2 separate regions of the Homo sapiens genome follow, and region 2 is linked to region 1. A link means that fine-mapping ties the variant in region 1 to the expression of a gene that starts in the linked region. Tissue or cell type: thyroid. Region 1 holds a variant in brackets; the other region holds the start of a gene. All regions are shown on one strand. Distances are between the middles of the regions.

Region 1 (5,153 bases):
TTTATTTTAAGAATGTTGTAAAGCAGTTGTGCCCCATTAGATGATGTGTTATGTAGCACTGGAGAAGTCCTGGAACTACAGTTGTGTTCTGACTCCCCCCTCCACCCTCGTATACCCCTGTCCCCTGGGAACACAGTCTTTCCTGGCTGTTACCATATATATATGTTCTTCTTCCCGTCTGATCCTCTCTCATCCCCAAAATAATCAACATGAGCAGAACGAAGCAGATGGCACAAGCCTTCTTTGGCATACTGGCAGATCTGTATCACTCAGTATTTTTAGAATCAAGGGGACTGAAAATTATGTCCTGAGATGTTTTGGGGTAAGACTTACTATCTTTCTAGGGTGACAGGTGTTGAAATAGCACCGTATTTAAGACTCAAATGCAATTTCTATGTCAAGTCACAGAACAGAATGACTCGCATCAGGACCATTGCTCTGTAAGTTCTGTTAGGATCGTTGGTGGCCTGCCAGATAATAGAAAGTTGTCATAAATTGTTTTAAGGATGTGGCCAGAAAGTGCATTGGGTTTCAACCAAAGATTGGACTCATCAGTAAACAGCCTTTGAACTGATCAAGTGCGTGGTGATGAGAGATGTTGTATATACCCACAGTTGTTGTTGTTGTTGTTGTCGTTTTTTAATAGCTAAGCTTTGACCCTCAGCCACAAAGCGTTTATAGTCTGTTGGGGTAGACAGTCTTGTTTTTACAGAAGTTTATTATTATATCATGAAAACAAATATTTGTATTCTAAGGCCCATATGGAAGAAATACATAGTTACGGTGATTAAAAATTATGAATTTGAGTTCATTAAGGACTCTCTGAAGAAATTAAAGAATGTTCACTATTATATAACTAACTTAGTTCTGAGGACCAACTTTGCAATTAGTATTAGGCTAGGTATATTAAACACACAGACCTGGAACTCAAAGCCTTGGGAAAAGATATTCATGAAATAAGCATAAAAACGAGAGACTTTGTGTTTTAGTCTTTGAGGGAAACTTGAAGTTGGAGGAAATGTGCCTCACCTTTAAACCATGGCCATGTCTAATGCTCAGATTGTCCCATTCATCTTTGAGGGCTCAGGGGAAATGTAGGCATGGGTGATGTCCATGACTGCTGGCCTTTTGAATCTTGGGAAGAAGTGGCTGGAAAGAGATCTGGAAAACCTCATTCAGTGCCAAAGGGCAAGTTTTTCAATTGAATAAGCTTTATTTTTTTCTTTGTACTCCTAGTGTGTTTGGTAAGCAATGAGTCAAGGTTTACATCTGCTGAGAAAGAATGCAGGCGTTTTACTTGCCACCTCTTGTGTCCTTTCTACACGTGTGTTGTCCACACTGCCACTTCTTTCCAGTATAATTGATATGGTGTAGTATCCATAGGGAGAGAATGTGTCTCTTTCCCATTACATCCATAGCTAAATGGTTAGAACATGAGCTGTACATTGACACATGGTTCTATAGTACTTTTAATTCCAGTGTTTCATAAATACTGCCTATTTGTAGGGTGTTTATTTAGGTTACAGTGTGCTTTCAGATCCATTTTGTCTCAGTCGATTGTCCCAGCAGCCTGTTTACATACATCAGGTAACTATCACAAATGAGGAAACTGAAACTCGACACAGATAACATGGGTAAGTTGGAATTTGAACTGGGGAATCTTTCCACTGGATTCACAGAACAAGTGCCTGGATTTATAGCTTCAGGGTAAACACCTGAGGCTCAATCAGTAGCACAGTTGTGTCCAAGGAAAGCACAGCCTTGCCTTCCTCTCCTTTGATGGGAATACCAAGAGTCTGCCTGTGCCGTCCAGGACAGCAGCCACTGGCACTATGTGGCAATTTAAATTAAAGTTAAATAAAGTAAAAGTTTCAGTTTCTCAGAGGCACATTTTGAGTGCTCAGTAGCCATCACATCTGTAACATTTCCATCATTGCAGAAAGTTCTGTTGGACATGCCAGTCATCTCATAAAGCAAGAATTGGGGAGAATCAACTTACTGAGATAAGTTGAGAAAAGTGTATATGCAGGGTGTTAAGTAGGTGAGAGAAATGTAAAACCTTCCCCAACAAAGCAGCTCCTTCTCTGAAGGGGCGAGTGGGACGAGTGCTATTTTGAGTTCAGCTATAAAGGGAATGAGAAAAAGATGCATTTTCAAACTTCATACTCTGTGTGTGTTAGTCTTTTTTAATAAACCTAGAAAGAACACAGAGCAATTCTAAGTGAATGAGTGTGTTTTATAGCTGGGCCGGTATTATGGCCAAACTTAGGCTGGGTGAGAAGTAGAACAGATCATGATACCTAGCAGAGCAAACTCGGCAGGCGGAATAGAATTCCTAGAAGGAGTTATTTTGTTTGTGACCAGGGCTGTTGAGGATTCCTCAAGATAGGGCCTCAGGCATGAACTAGAATACTGGAAGGGAACCAGGGGTTGGGGGAAAGGGGTTTGGGCAGAGCCGGGACAGGTAATTAGTTAAAGTCACACATAATTGCAGAGGTTGTGTGTGCTGCTAGAATCACAGCCGTCACAAAGAAGGTGTGGTGCCAAGGTGCTGGCCGAGGACTCCTGTGTGTCCCCTGGTTTGGATTAGCGCTGACCAAAAGTGCCCGAGTCAGCTTTCACGTTTCCAAGTGGGTGAGGCAGGATGGTGAGGGGTATTTGCTTGGTACCGCGAACTCTGTCCAGACACTGAAAACATCTACAACAGAAGATGAGGAACTCTACAAGTTTCCTGGAATTTTTGCTGGTTAGAAAAGGAATATGTGTTTGGTTATGTCCGTGTGCTACATAATGCTATATTTAAACATGTTTAAACTGTTATTACAATAAAGTTTCATCTAGTTAGACTCATACTTTCTGATCTGAAAGTAACCAAAAAGGTAAGTAAAAATTAACTTTTAACAATAAAGAGCAACTCTAGAGACATGGCAATAAATGACTGCAAGGAGCAGGGAGGGCTTTAAAGACTCACTGCAATTGGTCAGTTTACCATGAAGTGCCCTGCTTACTGGCAAAGTTCAGCAAATGCTGGCCTGTGGACAAAAGCTACTCAAGTGTACTTCA[C/T]CTAAGCATACAGTACTCTTAATTTTTTTAAGTATTGGCACTTGAAAGGTGAGCATTTGCCCACCTGAAAATCTCTCTCTAGAATAGCACAGGGTGGTAGTGATCCAGGGCTTTACCCTGGCAGGTAGTGGCAGGTAGAGGCCGATTTGAAACCTGCTGTCAGAGTCCAGGGATGAAATGTGGGGGGTTGGTCCAGGTCCTGAGAGTGAAGCTAGGAGGAGACATCTCCAAGTGTAAATTTTTGGAACACAGTTTCTCAGCTTGGGTGGAAAGCCACCCTAGTAAGTGGAGTATTGTTCATGATGCAGGCTCAGACACTTCAGGTTCCTCCAATGATGGCCAATTGGTAGAAAAAGAAGAACCTGGTTTTTGGTGACTCTGGCTGAGTCAGAAGGATGATAATGATTTGGGTTTGAGACAAGTTGGGTTTGAGGAGGCAGTAGGCCCATCTCCTGGAGGTGGCCTACCAGCAGGTAGCTGGATGGGCCCTCCAGGGTAGGGCCAGGGAATGAAGAAAGGTCCATAAACAAAAAAGGAAGAGATTAGTAGAACTTACTAGAGGATGGTGCCTACAAATCTGAACGTGGCCTGGGCTGGTTCCTGAGCTATCAGCTTTGTGCCACCACATCAGTGCAACTAGACTAGACTAGCTTCATGCACATTCTGTTTATATCAGCCCTTCTGCAGAGTAATCTTACAAACAAATTGACTTAGGTGTATACAAATTATTTCTTATCCTCTGGAAGTTTAAACAGGTGTGATAAGCAACTAATGTTATGCCAACAATGAGTGATGAGGAAGAGCCCGTGGTTTGAGTAAGTGTGGGTGATTTTTGTTTATGGACCAGTAAAAACACTTGAACACACTGAGGGAGGGAGGTTTTTGTTTGTTGTTGTTGTTGTTGTTGTTGTTGTTTTTCTCTTTGGTCAATGGAGCTTCACACTGACCTGAAATAGATAATACTGGATCCGTGGAAAGAACTCTCCTTACCAGAGGGAAAGTGTGCTCCACTGGCCATCAGTGCTTGACTCCTCACCCTCTGAGAAGCCAAAAGTGTAGACTTGTATGCAGATGGCCCTCTCACATGGAGAACTGTGTTCCATGAGCACCATTTAAAGGAACGTGTTGATTGTGGGTAGTTGATTCTGAAGCGGTCAGGGAGGAAAAGCATTGTTTTCAAATGGCTAATGCAAGAAAACTGTTCCTCTTCTCTCCACAGCCAATCCGGGGGACCCAGGACATGCCCCAGCTATAGTGATGCAGATTACCTTTCTGCTCCTGAATCGCACCTGTGCCTCAGACTTTCTCCCCTCAGCTTGAGACTGCATGTAAACTGGGATGTGTGAAAGCAGGAAGCAAAGCTAGTGACAGCTGAGAGGTCCATGTCTGGGTAGAACCAGGCCCACGATGCTGCCTCTCCCGTGGTCTGGAGTTCAGCTGCAGGGACTCTGCTGATGTGCCCAGCACCATCGTTCTGTTTGTGCTTAAATGGCACAGCATTTGGTCAGCACATCTGAAAAGGAAGGTGTGAGAAGCAAAGCCCATGGCCACGTTCCCCTGCCAGTTATGTGGCAAGACGTTCCTCACCCTGGAGAAGTTCACGATTCACAATTATTCCCACTCCAGGGAGCGGCCGTACAAGTGTGTGCAGCCTGACTGTGGCAAAGCCTTTGTTTCCAGATATAAATTGATGAGGTGAGAGGCTTTGGCAAAGGTATGCACTTTTAGAAGTACGTTTAAATGGCTTTTCTAGCCCTCAGACCACACGATGCAAGGGGAAAGGGACACAGGATATGGATGCATTTTAGCCTTTGAGGGATTCTTGAAATCTGCATCCAGTGATTCCTGTGGTTTTATGTGACCGTCTTGTTGTGCAGTGTCAGTTCATTCTTTCAACAGAGATTTTTTATGCACCTACAATATACCAGGCCTCTCCCCATGGCTGGAGAAATAGGAAAAGACAATTAAAATGCAACCTCACTGCTTTGACAGAGCTATACAGGTGGTAGAAGTTGTTCTTCACTGCCTGATGAAACCTGGGACGGCTTCTCAGATGGGGACAATCTTTAAGCTGTGACACAATGAAAGAG
Region 2 (5,153 bases), 59 kb before region 1:
CATTTCTCTAATGACCAGTAATGATGAGCTTTTTTCATATGTTTGTTGGCCACATAAATGTCTTCTTTTGAGAAGTGTCTGTTCATATCCTTTGCCCACTTTTTGATGGAGTTGTTTTTTTCTTATAAATTTGTTTAAGTGCTTTGTAGATTCTGGATATTAGCCCTTTGTCAGATGGATAATTGCAAAAATTTTCTCCCATTCTGTAGGTTGCCTGTTCAGTCTGATGATAGTTTCTTTTGGTGTGCAGAAGCTCTTTAGTTTAATTAGATCCCAATTGTCAATTTTGGCTTTTGTTGCCATTGCTTTTGGTGTTTTAGTTATGAACTCTGCCCATGCCTATGTCCTGAATGGTATTGCCTAGGTTTTCTTCTAGGCTTTTTATGGTTTTAGGTCTGATGTTTTAAGTCTTTAGTCCATCTTGAGTTAATTTTTGTATAAGGTGTAACGAAGCGGTCCAGTTTCAGTTTTCTGCATATGGCTAACCAGTTTTTCCCAACACCATTTATTAACTAGGGAATCTTTTACCTATTGCTTGTTTTTGTCAGGTTTGTCACAGATCAGATGGTTGTAGATGTGTGGTGTTATTTCTGAGGACTCTGTTCTGTTCCATTGGTCCATATATCTGTTTTGGTACCAGTACCATGCAGTTTTGGTTACTGTAGCCTTGTAGTGTAGTTTGAAGTCAGGTAGTGTAATGCCTCCAGCTTTGTTCTTTTTGCTTAGGATTGTCTTGGCTATACGGGCTCTTTTTTGGTTCCATATGAAATTTAAAGTAGTTTCTTCTAATTCTGTGAAGAAAGTCAATGGTAGCTTGATGGGGATAGCATTGAATCTATAAATTACTTTGGGCAGTATGGCAATTTTCATGATAATTGATTCTTCCAATCCATGAGCATGGAATGTTTTTCCATTTGTTTGTGTCCTCTCTGATTTCCTTAAGCAGTGGTTTGTAGTTCTCCTTGAAGAGGTCCTTCACATCTCTTGTAAGTTGTATTCCTAGGTATTTTATTCTCTTTGTCGCCATTGTGAATCAGAGTTCACTCATGTGTTGGCTCTCTTATTTGTCTACTATTGGGGTATAGGAATGCTTGTGATTTTTGCACATTGATTTTGTATCCTGAGACTTTGCTGAAGTTGCTTATCAGGTAACATCTCATGCCAGTTAGAATGATAATCATTAAAAAGTCAGGAAACAACAGATGCTGGAGAGGATGTGGAGAAATAGGAACGCTTTTACGCTGTTGGTGGGAGTGTAAATTGGTTCAACCATCGTGGAAGACAGTGTGGCAATTCCTCAAGGATCTAGAACCAGAAATACCATTTGACCCAGCAATCTCATTACTGGGTATATACCCAAAGAATTATAAATCATTCTACTGTAAAGACACATGCACACGTATGTTTATTGAAGCACTATTCACAATAGCAAAGACTTGGAATCAACCCAAATGGCCATTGGTGATAGACTGGATTAAGAAAATGTGGCACATATACACCATGGAATACTATGCAGCCATAAAAAAGGATGAGTTCATGTCCTTTGTAGGGACATGGATGAAGCTGGAAACCATCATTCTCAGCAAACTAACACAGGAACAGAAAACTAAACACCGCATGTTCTCATTCATAAGTGGGAGTTGAACAATGAGAACACATGGACTCAGGGAGGGGAACATCACACACTGGGGCCTGTTGGGGAGTGGGGGGCTAGTGGGGTAGGGATAGCATTAGGAGAAATGCCTAATGTAGATGACGGGTTGATGAGTGCAGCAAACCACCATGGCATGTGTATACCTATGTAACAAACCTGCCCGTTCTGCACATGTATCCCAAAACTTAAAGTATAATAAAAAAATAAATAAAGCAATTGCCATCTTGTTCTGTTAGGTTTTGAAGGAAGGTGTGAATTGAAAATATTTACCCAACTCACTTTTTATTTATGTATAGAGAAAAACACCAGATCTTCTCAAACATGGCAGCACTCTATAAACCCTCCTTAGGAATATGACTTGAAAATGAAGGAAGTCCATCAAGAACTAAATAAAAATAAAAATTCAGGGATAGATAAGTTACAGTGAATATCAAATTCATTTAAAGATAGAATTAAGACAACATCTGGAAAAATAAAGTTGCAGAGCAATTGCAAATGTTCTCATTGCTAGGAAGCCGAAAGTAACAGAACTAATGGAAATTGAGAGGCAGGGTTACCCCCTAAAGGTAGGTGGAGGTGTATGATGCTAATTAACCTCATCTTTCAGAGCTATGAGACTTTCTAAACCCGAACATGTAGTGAGCTCCTTACACCTCTCTTAATCTTTTTACGTAATGCTTATAGGCCTTTTAAAAAGCACGTCTTTTAGGGAAGAAAGCAATAGAGATTCCCTTCAGTTTATTTTTCTTAAATTCCAGTAACATGAAAAATTTGAAATTATATGAAGCAGACGTAGTGTGATACCGTAATTAGAAAATTACTTCTGTCTACCCTTTCTGCGTCTTCGTTTCTTCAGCTGTGAGACGGGTATTTCTCCCAGTGTTGCTGTGAGGATTACACGTATTTACCTGCAAAGTGCTTAGGACAGTGCCTGGCTCACGGTCAGTGCTCACGTTTGGGCAGCTGCACTTGGGCGCTGCTGGCACAGGAGGTAAGTTAGTTTGGCCTATTGCAGCGTCCCAGCATCTGTCGCGTTTCTCATGTGTGATTGGGCTCTGGCGGCCCATCCTGGCGGAGACTTCGGCTAGCAGGCCCCGCTGCAGACCCCAGGCCGGCTCGGGTCTACCTGCGCCAGCGCTGTACCTGGGCGACCTTGGCTTTGCCCCCACCGGTGACCCGGCCCGCAGGACGTGTGGGTGCCGCTCAGCTCCCCCCGCCTCGGCCGCCGACCCCCAGCTCCCCGGCGGGGCCTCCTCCTGCCACGTGACGCCCCCGCCAGGGGCCCCAGCGCCCTCCTCGCGGCCGCGCCGTTCCGGCTCCCGAGCCCCGCCTGCGCGCGGCCTCCTCGGCGCAGCCATCCTCTTGGCTGCCGCGGGCGGCAAAGCCCACGGCATCTGCCATTTGTCATTCAGCCCGTCGGTACCGCCCCGAGCCTTGATTTAGACACGGCTGGGGCGTGCTCTGGCCTCACTCTCCGGGCGGGTGCTGGACGGACGGACGGACGGGGCAGCCGTGCTCACAGCTCAGCAGCGCGGGGCCTTGGCGCGCGGGGCGCTTCCCCGGGTCGCCGTCATGGCCGCGGAGGTGGCACGCCCGAGCGGCCTCGCCTGAGCTCCGGGGGTCGTCGCCCCGCAGGGTAGGTGTTTGGGTGCTCGCGGCTGCGGCGGGCGGGCTGGGGGCAGCGGTGGCCGTGCATTGCCGCGCTGCGAGGACGGCGCTGGGTTCGCGGCCGCGAGGAGGGTGTGCCTTTGCCGCGCCGCCTACGTGCGGGTCCGGGCTCCGCGGGGCCGGGTGCGGGACCCCGCAGATCGTCACCCGCAACCCAGGCAGCCCCACCGCGAGTGCCGCCGGACCCCCTGGACGCCGCTGCCAGAGGCGTTCGCGCCTATCTGGTATGAGGTCCACAGACCCGATTCTTACAACCTGGCGCTCTAACCTCGCCAACGGGCCAGGAAAAAAACAGAACAAGGAAAAGAAGAAAAAGTCTGTTCCAAGTAATAATGGGACTAGACAGTAACTGTTTGCACTTTCGTCTCTTATGGAAAATATGATTATTTTGATGCTTTAGTATTACAGACTGTATCAGACATACTCTTAAAAGTATTTAAAAACGTGGGGTCCTAAAAATTTCCTAGATCGGGACAGCTGATAATGCGACTTCTGTTAGTCTCCGCATCCAACTTTCAGGGCGGAATGGGGATTTCTACCTTTTACTGAATATACTCCTGTAATTTTGAATATTTTTTCTCATCAAATGTGTTACTTTCATGTTTTAGGAAACCAATAAAAATCAAAAATAGAAACACCCAGCTTAGGTCCTCCTTCTTCCAGGAATCCTCCTCTAACCCCTCCCTCCCAGGCAGGATCGGAGGCCCCTCCCGGGTGCTTTCTGGGGCCTCACTGAGGTCCTGGTCCCCTAAGTCCTCCCCCGCAGCCCCTCCGCGTATTAACCCACCGGTCTCGCTGGGCTCAGAGATTGCTTACTTAGCACATGGTAAGTGATTAATACTGTTTAATGACCGAGGGAAAAGATAAAATGTTCTCTGATGTTTCACGCTTTTCGCTCTGAAGTTAAATAGTGGTAAATTTATATGCGCTTAGATAAGAACATTTAACAGTTAAGGATCTGGAAAAGTTGACGACGTCCGATGTCCGTGTTTCCTGATCCAGCAGTTGCACGCCTGGGTATTCATCCTTAAGAACAATGTTTTTCAGAATTTGAAGTCCATTTTAGTGGGTCGTAAAGTCATTTAAATGGATGATCAGAATTTGTAAAACACAGACGGAGAATAGAACATCAGTGTCTCTCAGGTCATAGGGGTGTTCGCTTTATGAATCTCTCTCCCCCTCCTCAGTTTCATACATACACAAATGTGTGTCATGATGTAAAACGTCATTCCTTAGTATGAGTCATGGACAAAAAAGTTTGAAAGCCACTGCCCTAGATAAATTTTAATACATGTCCACAAGCAGACGTGTACAAGAAGGTTGACTGTAATGGCAGAAAACTGGATGCCGCCTTCATGCCTACCTGAAGGAGAAAGATAAATTATACACCACTCATAAAAAGGGCACACTGTACAGTGGCCAATGAAGTATTTTTGTGTTTCAACACAAATGCCTTTCAGTGTTGAACCAAAAAAAAAAAAAGTTGCCGGAGAATGCTGTGTGATATCTTCTATGTAAAATTCAGAACCTGGTGGAGCAAAGCTGTTGTTTAGGGATGCATGTATAGGCATTAAAAGTAGTAAAGAAAAAAAGTCAAGCTAATGGTCATCTCCTAGTGGGGAGGAGAGGGTCAGGGGCTCAGAGATGCTGGAAATGCTTTATCGCCTGACCTGTGCAATGGTTACATGGGTGTTTGCTTTGTAACTCTTTGTTAAATGATACACACTGGGTTTGAATGTTACATTTCCCCCCAAATATGTTAAAATATGGGTGTTGCAAACTGAAGAAGCCTGAGTCTAGGGCTCTCCGTCTGTTATTCTTATTTCCTGGC

What was found. PIP is the estimated chance that this variant, and not a neighbour inherited with it, causes the effect.
Region 2: PLAGL1 starts here. The variant in region 1 is fine-mapped to the expression of PLAGL1 in thyroid (GTEx, PIP above 0.99).

What each region holds. Positions count from the first base shown.
Region 1 is chr6:143,947,590-143,952,742 of GRCh38, reverse strand. It overlaps PLAGL1 (PLAG1 like zinc finger 1), which reads left to right. Exons shown (of 8, transcript NM_001317162.2): 7 at 4,283-4,758. The coding sequence starts at 4,607. Among named protein-coding and RNA genes, the nearest start is that of HYMAI, 58 kb to the left of the region's middle. The variant C/T (reference allele first, on the strand shown) is at 3,064.
Region 2 is chr6:144,006,227-144,011,379 of GRCh38, reverse strand. PLAGL1 (PLAG1 like zinc finger 1) reads left to right here and starts at 3,121. Exons shown (of 8, transcript NM_001317162.2): 1 at 3,121-3,290. It overlaps HYMAI (hydatidiform mole associated and imprinted), which reads left to right and starts at 3,121. Exons shown (of 1, transcript NR_002768.3): 1 at 3,121-5,153. RefSeq lists silencers at 2,885-2,934, 3,125-3,314, 3,510-3,692.